Linked DNA regions of Homo sapiens. The protein of the gene in region 1 interacts with the protein of each later gene in a pairwise test. Each region holds a gene or a part of one and is shown on either strand. Other genes may lie near its edges.

The links. Proteins that work in one complex are often made in the same cells at the same time.
Region 2: the proteins of ZNF467 (region 1) and ZNF451 interact in a two-hybrid assay, tested with the Homo sapiens proteins (one large-scale study listed by BioGRID).

The regions. Positions count from the first base shown.
Region 1 is NC_000007.14:149,770,789-149,774,952, forward strand, and holds the start of ZNF467 (zinc finger protein 467), read right to left. Parts: upstream 2,801-4,164; 5' UTR 2,320-2,800; intron 2,300-2,319; exon of another isoform or gene 2,235-2,299; intron 1,974-2,234; exon of another isoform or gene 1,916-1,973; intron 709-1,915; exon of another isoform or gene 678-708; coding exon of another isoform or gene 597-677; exon of another isoform or gene 531-596; intron 287-530; coding exon of another isoform or gene 245-286; coding exon 211-244; intron 1-210. UniProt on the Homo sapiens protein: Transcription factor that promotes adipocyte differentiation and suppresses osteoblast differentiation in the bone marrow. Enhances the osteoclast-supporting ability of stromal cells.
Region 2 is NC_000006.12:57,152,688-57,156,187, reverse strand, and holds part of ZNF451 (E3 SUMO-protein ligase ZNF451), read right to left. Parts: intron 2,328-3,500; coding exon 2,141-2,327; intron 1-2,140. UniProt on the Homo sapiens protein: E3 SUMO-protein ligase; has a preference for SUMO2 and SUMO3 and facilitates UBE2I/UBC9-mediated sumoylation of target proteins. Plays a role in protein SUMO2 modification in response to stress caused by DNA damage and by proteasome inhibitors (in vitro).

The DNA.
Region 1 (4,164 bases):
TGAGTGCTCAAGTGCACATATGGTCTAGAGCGCAGCCTCCACCATGTTCCAGGCATTCAGACACCCCGTGCTACAGAAAAGGAGGCTGACCTACAGGCCCCTGGGGCCTCAGGGTTGCAGCCTCCTGAGGGTGGCTCTGCTGTCTGAGTTGTAGATGCCCCTGAATCCTCCTAAGCTTTTCCCCAAGTCCCTTCATTTCTGCCAGCTCACCCAGGGAGCTGAGGGCCTCCAAGGTCTCTCTCATGGTAACCCAGAGTAGCTCCTCCTGGGGATCAGGCCACAGAACCTATGGAGAAAAGACAGCCTTGTTCAGATTTTTCCCACGCCAGCTTCCACCTGGGCCCTGGCTCTGCCCAACCTCTCCCTATGGGCTCTTCCAGGAGCTCCAAAGGTGACATCCCCAGGTACAGCTGGGGGAAATTTGGGAAACTGGGTTTAGAAAGCCAAGCCAAGAGATCTTTGAAGGTGGCCCAAGAAGGCCTTGAAACGATTTCTGTCAGCTCTGGAAACCAGCCGCGCCACCCCCTCACCTGGCAGGTCTGTCACCGCCAACCCCGGCCCATCAGCACCGCAACTCCACGCCCCAGCGTCCTTGCCTGGGAAAGTGCAGGCAAGATTCGATTCTCTGGGGAGAGGCTTGAGGGTGGGAGCCCAGGGTGGGGAGTGGGAAACTTCATCTCCCAGGTCCTCCAGCTGTCACTGCCCGAGCTGGTGAAATAGGAGCCAGCCCAGGGGCGGGAGTGAGTGTCACTTTAGGGGTACTGCTTGGGGAGGTCCTCGAGAGGATCCTCTTGTAGCTAGAAAATGATCGCCTCTTCCTAAACCCCTACCACAAAACCACCTCTCACCCGTGCCGGGCTGCCCAAGGCCCGGACACCGCCCCTGCTGCCCCTTCCCTGCTCCGCCTTCCGCGGCTCCCCCGCCCCTCCCCCAGCAGACTCCCCTCCCCCATCTCCCCGGCAGCCTTCCCTCTGCCCCGCCCCTCCCGCTCCCTCTGCCTTCCGCCCTCTCTCCCCTGCGAATCGGGCCGGCGCCTCGGCTCCGCCCCCGGCCCCGCCCCTCAGGCTCCGCCCGCCCGAGCCCGGCAGGGCCAACCCCTCGAGGCCCCGTCCGGGTCGGCCCTCCGCTGCCACCGCCTCCCCTGACCCTACGCTCCGGGCCGCCTCGGCGGCAGCGCTCCCCTCCCCCTCTCAGACTCCAGGCTGCCTTTCCCTACCCTCCCGGTTCTCCCCCGCTCCATCTCCCTCCCCGGCTGCACACCCTCTCCCTTCCTTTCCCCCTCCTCTTTTCCTTCCTCGCCAACCCCCGCCCTCCTCCTCTCAGCTCTTTTCCCCAACCCAGTTCTCCTCTCCCCTCCCTCCTCTCCTCCCCCACCCCGGTTTCCCTTCCTTCTCCTTTCCTCGCCTCACCTCGGTTCCCTTCCCCTCCCCCTTTCCAGCCCTCCCCCACGTCTCCCCACCGCCCTCCCCCTCCCCCCTCCCTTCTGCAGCTCTCCTTCCCCTCCGAGGCCCCCGCCTCCCTTCCCCCTCTGTCTCCCCAGCAGGCTCCAGCTTCGCTTCCCTCCCCGTCCCCAGTCCCCAGAACCGCTCTTCCCCTCCCCCCTCCCAGGCTGCTTCCCAGCTCCCGGGTCCTCCGGCCCCCAAGCCTGGGGGTCTAGGGCTGACCCGCTCTCTCGGGACCTTCCCGCGGGCCCTGCCCTCCCCACTCCGTCTCCCCTCCGAACACCCCTCCGCGCCTCTCTTCTCCGCCGCGGCGCCCCCTCCCTATTTCTGCTCCCCTCGGACTTCTCACCCCTCCCAAGTTTTCCTCCCGACGGGACCCTCAGCTCCACCTCCCTGCCCCGCCGCCCTCCCAAGCAGCTCCGATCGCCGACTTCATTCCAGGTCCCGGCCCCCTCCCCAGCTCCGGGGCTCACCTGTCAGCGCCCTCCTCTCCCGCCCCTACCGAGTGGCCCGGTCCCCAGCGCCCGCTTCTTCCTCCCCTTCCCCCTCGGCCCCCTCCCACACTCCCTCTCTCCTCCCCTCGGGGCCCGTCGTCCCCCTTCCCACCTGCCTCCCGCCCGACCCCCTCCCAGCCCCCGCCCTTCCCTCCAGCCCCCCCGGTCTCCTCTACCCCCACAGCCCTCACCCTGCCCGCGCCGGCCTTGCCCTCCCTTCCCCCCAGCCCCCGACCTCCCCGGACCCGCGCCCCTCCCCCACGCCCGCCGTCCGCGCCCCTACCCCCGGGGCTGTCACCTGCGCGGAGCCGGCCGTGACCCAACCGCGGCGCTGAGGGAGACGCGGGCGGGGCCGCCTGCAGAGGAGCCTCCCCGGCCCTTACCTGGCTGGCCGGCCGCTCCGCCCGCGCCGCGGGGACCCAGGCGCCCGGGCCTCCTGCCCCGCCGGCTCTGCTCACAATGGCGCTCGCCGCCTGCAGCTCGGGTGCTGACGGCCTGAAAGACTGACAGACTGACAGCCCCGAAACTTCGCGGGGAGGAGAGGGATAGACGCGCGGGGAGTCGAAGCCGGGAAACGGCGCCTGCAAGGGAGGAGGGACCGAGGGAGCGGGCGGAGAGCCCCGGCGCACCGGGCTGGGGGAGGCAGGGGCAGGGGGTTTCAGGAGTGGGGTCCCAGGAGGGAGCACCGTGGGCTTAGGTGGGCAGGTGATGGTCCTAAGGCTCCGAGCCTGGAGTAGGTGTGGAAGTGGGAGCTCAGGACGGGGGAGGGGAGGGGAGGGGAGGGGAGGGTGATGGGAGAGGGGGTGGAGGAGGGCGAGGAGGCTGGGGAGGACAGGCACTCGGGCTGCGGGGAAGGGTGCCAAGGGAGGGTGCTCGCGGCCGCGGAGGGAGGAGCCGGGGAAAGGTGGAGCGCGAACGGGTGGGGGGGTGGCGGGGAGGAGTTGGGGGAACGAGGAGGGGCCGTGTCGGGGGGGAGCCAGCGAGTCGTGCGCTGCCGTCTCTAAGTCGCCGGTGCCAGCCGGGTGTGCAGCGCCGCGCTCCCGCGGGAGGACGGCCCGGGGGGTCGGTCTGGGAAACTCCGGCCCCGCCCCCATTCTCCACCCGGATTCCACCCCGATCCACCCAGACCCGCAGCCCCTCGCCTGGAGTCCCGAGGACCCGATTCGAAACCAGCCGCGGGAGCCGTGGGGGCAGGCGGGAGAGAGGGCTGGGCCCCTGTGCTTGCGAGAACGGGTCCTTCGAAGTAGAAACTGGGGAGAGGACTTTAAGCCAGGTCCCCTGGGAGAAGGCCGGGCCAGGTCGGGAGCTCCAGGGGGCAAGGCTGGGACGGGGCTGGGCGGAGATTCTGAGGGCGGGGTCCGGGGGAGGGTCTGGGAGGGGGCTGCAGAGAGGGGAGGGCTCTATGGGCGGGAGACGATTGCTGGGGGGCCTGCTGGCCCGGACACCACCTGGAGTTAGATGTGGAGGGCAGCCCTCAGCCCTCAGCCCTCAGCCCCAGCTCCTCAGGGGACTCCACTCGCCCTCCCTGCCCAGGTTACGAGGTTTCTCCTTGGCCTTGTTCCCGCTGCGCCCACTCCTGAAAGCTCCGGAGATGCTGAAGTCTGGACTGTTAGTTCCCGGTCTCCTCTCCATGAACTTTCTCCAAACCCCTGGGTTCCAGCTTCCTCCCTTCTGCCCCTTTACGGGAAAGGGTGACTGCAACTCGGGTCTCTTCCCAATCCCAGTGCTGCCTGATCAGCCCCGGTTTGAATCCAGAGCTGAGTGAGGCTGGGAAGGGGAGGGTGTGAATGGCCCTTGAGCTCCTGCTACCACAGCCCACCACAAGGATGAGTGCCTGGAAGAGCGCCCATCACTCGGGCTCAGCTGTGAAGGCTCCTCTGCCTCCAGGATGAAGGGAGCACCTGGAGTAGCATGTGTCACTGTGCGTGCTGGGGTGTGGCCGAGCACCTGTGCCGGTGTTGTGAGACTTACAGTGAGAGTGTGCATGTGTGTAAAACAGGAAAGGGGGGTGTCTGGGTGTGCGTGTGGCTCTTTCTGAGGACTCCAGAGCAGGAGTTGATCCCAGTCATCCGTGACCCCCTGAGAGACTCACTCTGGGCCCTTTTTTGGCCCTGGGACCAATGGTGAACCCAGGAGAAGGAGAGCCCGGCCCAGCTCTGGTTAACAGCAGCCCCCTTCCTCCCCTAGGTGGAATGACTCTACAGGATACTCGGAGGGATATCAGGTTT
Region 2 (3,500 bases), on another chromosome or scaffold:
ACATTAAAAATGTAGTGGCTAGGAATCACATTTTCTTTTTATGGTAGTAATAATAAAAAATAGCTATTATTTGTTAAATAGCTAAAGTGCTTTATATACTGTGCTAGACACTTTACATACATCACTAACTATTACAACCATATAAATACAAAAAAATGAGGCTCCAAAAAAGTTAAGTAACATGCCTGAAATCGCGCTGCTAGGAAACAGCAAAGTTAGCATTTGAACCAAAGCCCATATCCTTCTTCATGCAGTGCACAATCTCTGTATGTCACAAAAACTAAGAATAAAGTACACATGTGCCTCCAGAGAGTAGTTAGTTCAAATGAGTACTGAGTATGAGTGATTAAAAAAAAAAAAAAAAAAAAAGAATACCTAGAACATAAGAGTCATTTGGAAGGGCATAATCAGCAGATATTAATAACCTGTATCTTACCTCCAACTGTAATATACCCATGCAAGTCTACTCGTATTCACCTCTCATTCCAAACAGAATATGGTTTTGCCTCTGCAAAACCATAACAGGTTTCACATTTGGAGTTATAAAAGAAATGTTCCCAAAAGCAGAAGCATAAGAGAAGGAAAGGGAGGTTGGCCTTGTGCGGCAAAGGTAAAACTTTATCTTATAGGATATTAAGTAGATGTTGAGAACTGGGAAAGCGATGGCAAAAGAGTAGAAGAGGTGTTTTGCTTTTTGTTTGAGACGAAGTTTTTGGTCTTATTGCCCAGGCTGGAGCGCAATGGTGCAATCTCAGCTCACTGCAACCTCCGCCTCCTGGGTTCAAGCGATTCTCCTGCCTCAGCCTCCCGAGTAGCTGGGATTACAGGCAACCGCCACCATGCCCAGCTAATTTTTGTATATTTAGTAGAGATGGGTTTTCACCATGTTGACCAGGCTGGTCTTGAACTTCTGACCTCAGGTGATCCACCCACCTCAGCCTCCCAAAGTGCTGGGATTACAGGTGTGAGCCACTGCACCCAGCCTGTTTTTTTTGTTTTTTTGTTTTTTGTTTTAAGAAAAAAGAAAGCCACAGATAGAAAAACAAGTGAAAACAAAAATTACAGAATAGGAAGATAATACTCAGAACTAAGGCATGACATAAAGACACAAGAGTTCATTTTCTTTTATAATCTTCCATCATTACTCCACTTTAAAGAGTATAAAGAGCACAGATTACTGATTCCTAACTTTGCAGAAGTGAATTGATCCACTGTAATCAGTGATTACAGCAAAATTCTCCAGAATGAGTTTTCAATCAAAATGTGCTTCCAAATATATTGAAAGAAAAAAAAAATCTAGGAGGCAAGCAGACTTGAAAGCTTTAAAGGCACACAATAAAAATGCCAAAAAGCCACTATTTTTCATTAAGGTAATTCATTAATATCTTCAAACCTTATTCATGAATTTAAATTATTAGGATATTTAAACATTAATTATTCTATCCATATTTCTTTACTTCAGAGATTATGAAAAAGGGGGTTATAACTCAGTGGTAGAGCATTTGACTGCAGAAATTATGAAAAACGAAAAACAAAACTTCTGAATCCTTAGAATTACATCTTTTCTTATATACTAGGAAGTGAAATTGGGTATCAGCACTCCTTTCATTGAACAATCTCACAAAGGTACAGAAGAAAGTGCAAGTCCCAGCAATAAGATAGGATGTACCCACTTCTCTAAGGACCTAAAAGCCTATCAGCGTTTTATTTTGTCACTGTCAACCTCTTAAATGATCACCTTTGTTATTGCTTTCTGGTTTTCACCTCTAAGCGCACTGCTTTCTAAAAAACTGAAGGTCAACTTGGAATTTCAGAAACAAAGTGAAGATCTGAATTCTGAGCTTTTAAAATTGTAGTAACATACTGTAACACATGAATATATGTTTTATATACATCAATATAGATTTTATCTACTAGATCAAAAAAAGCTCCAGAAAATTATTATGAATTCATCCTCCTTCTAAAACACTAAAGAATGAAAGTGAGATTTTTTTAAAAAAGATAAGTAAGATAGAAGTAAGAGAACATGATGGTTTAGCAAGCAGGCAACAGTTCACTAGCGGACAGCAGTTTATTGGTTTCTCTCAGCAGTGAAGTCTCCTCCTCTTGGGTGGTTTGCACTGTGACTGCAGCTGCGTACCTTTGGTGGTATCAGATATGCTATTTAACAAGGCACACATCATATCTCCCTCTAAGTGGTGAGGGTTTAGTATATGAGCTGGCCTCTGAGTCTTCTTAAATTGATTCTCTAGCTCCAGAAAACCTTGATCTCCTGAGAGGATGGTGAAAGGAATTTGCTTGGGTAGTTGTTCATCTAGACGGCCAGCCTAAGTTAGAACAAATGGCACAGGTTGATAAAAAATCAGCATGAGTTTCAAAACAAGTTACATCTATTTCAGAATGAACACATGCCTAGGAAGGTATATTAAGCTTGTTCCCTAGTCCCTACCAAAGTATGACATAAAGATCTCCTTCAGCTGGGTGCAGTGGCTCACGCCTGTAATCCCAACACTTTGGGAGGCTAAAGCAGGTGGATCGCTTGAGGTCAGGAGTTCGAGACCAGCCCGGCCAACATGGTGAAACGCGGTCTCTATTAAAAAATGCAAAAATTAGCTGGGTGTGGTGGCATGCGCTTGTAATCCCAACTACTCGGGATTCTCCAGGCTGAGGCTGGAGAATCACTTGAACTCGGGAGGCAGAAGTTGCAGCCAAGATCGCGCCACTGCACTCCAGCCTGGGCGACAGAGTGACACTCCGTCTCAAAAAGGAAAAAAAAAAAAAGAGAGAAAGAAAGAACTCGTTCATAAATGAAATACCCCACATTTAATCAAATATAAGATGCCATTAAATTATATAAGCTATTTAATGTGCCATGAAAAGAAAAAGCCAAAATGGAAGTCCAACAGACCTCACATAAGGTTGAAATGCCAAAGGGCTATACGCTCAATATAAGGGTAAATAAGAAATAAATCTGCCATAGAGAAAAGGTAAGCAAGGCAATTTGCATGATTCAATCTTGGCATTAGATAGACTGAAAAAGAAATCTTTTGTTGTTTAAACCATAAGCTGCAGTCAACAAGTTTGCAGAGTAAATTCACATTATCAGTGTGACATGTAAGTCCCCAAGCAGAAAATTTAAAGTGGGTCTCAGTTTGGCAGTTTCTCTAGGTACCCAGCAGAGACAGAAGCAAATGCAAATTCTGTCTAGGCCAACAGTGATTGTTAAGGTACCTCTTAATTTTAGAGATATTAAAATATGAAAGTGTCTTAATATATATCAAATACAGTATCATCAGCAGGGCGCAGTGGCTCACACCTGTAATCCCAGCACTTTGGGAGGCCTAGGCGGGCAGATCACTTGAGGCCAGGAGTTTGAGACCAGCCTGGCTAACATGGAGAAACCCCGTCTCTACTAAAAATACAAGTATTAGCTGGGCATGGTGGTATGCTCCTGTAGTCCCAGCTACTTGGGAGGCTGAGGCACAAGAACCATTTCAGCC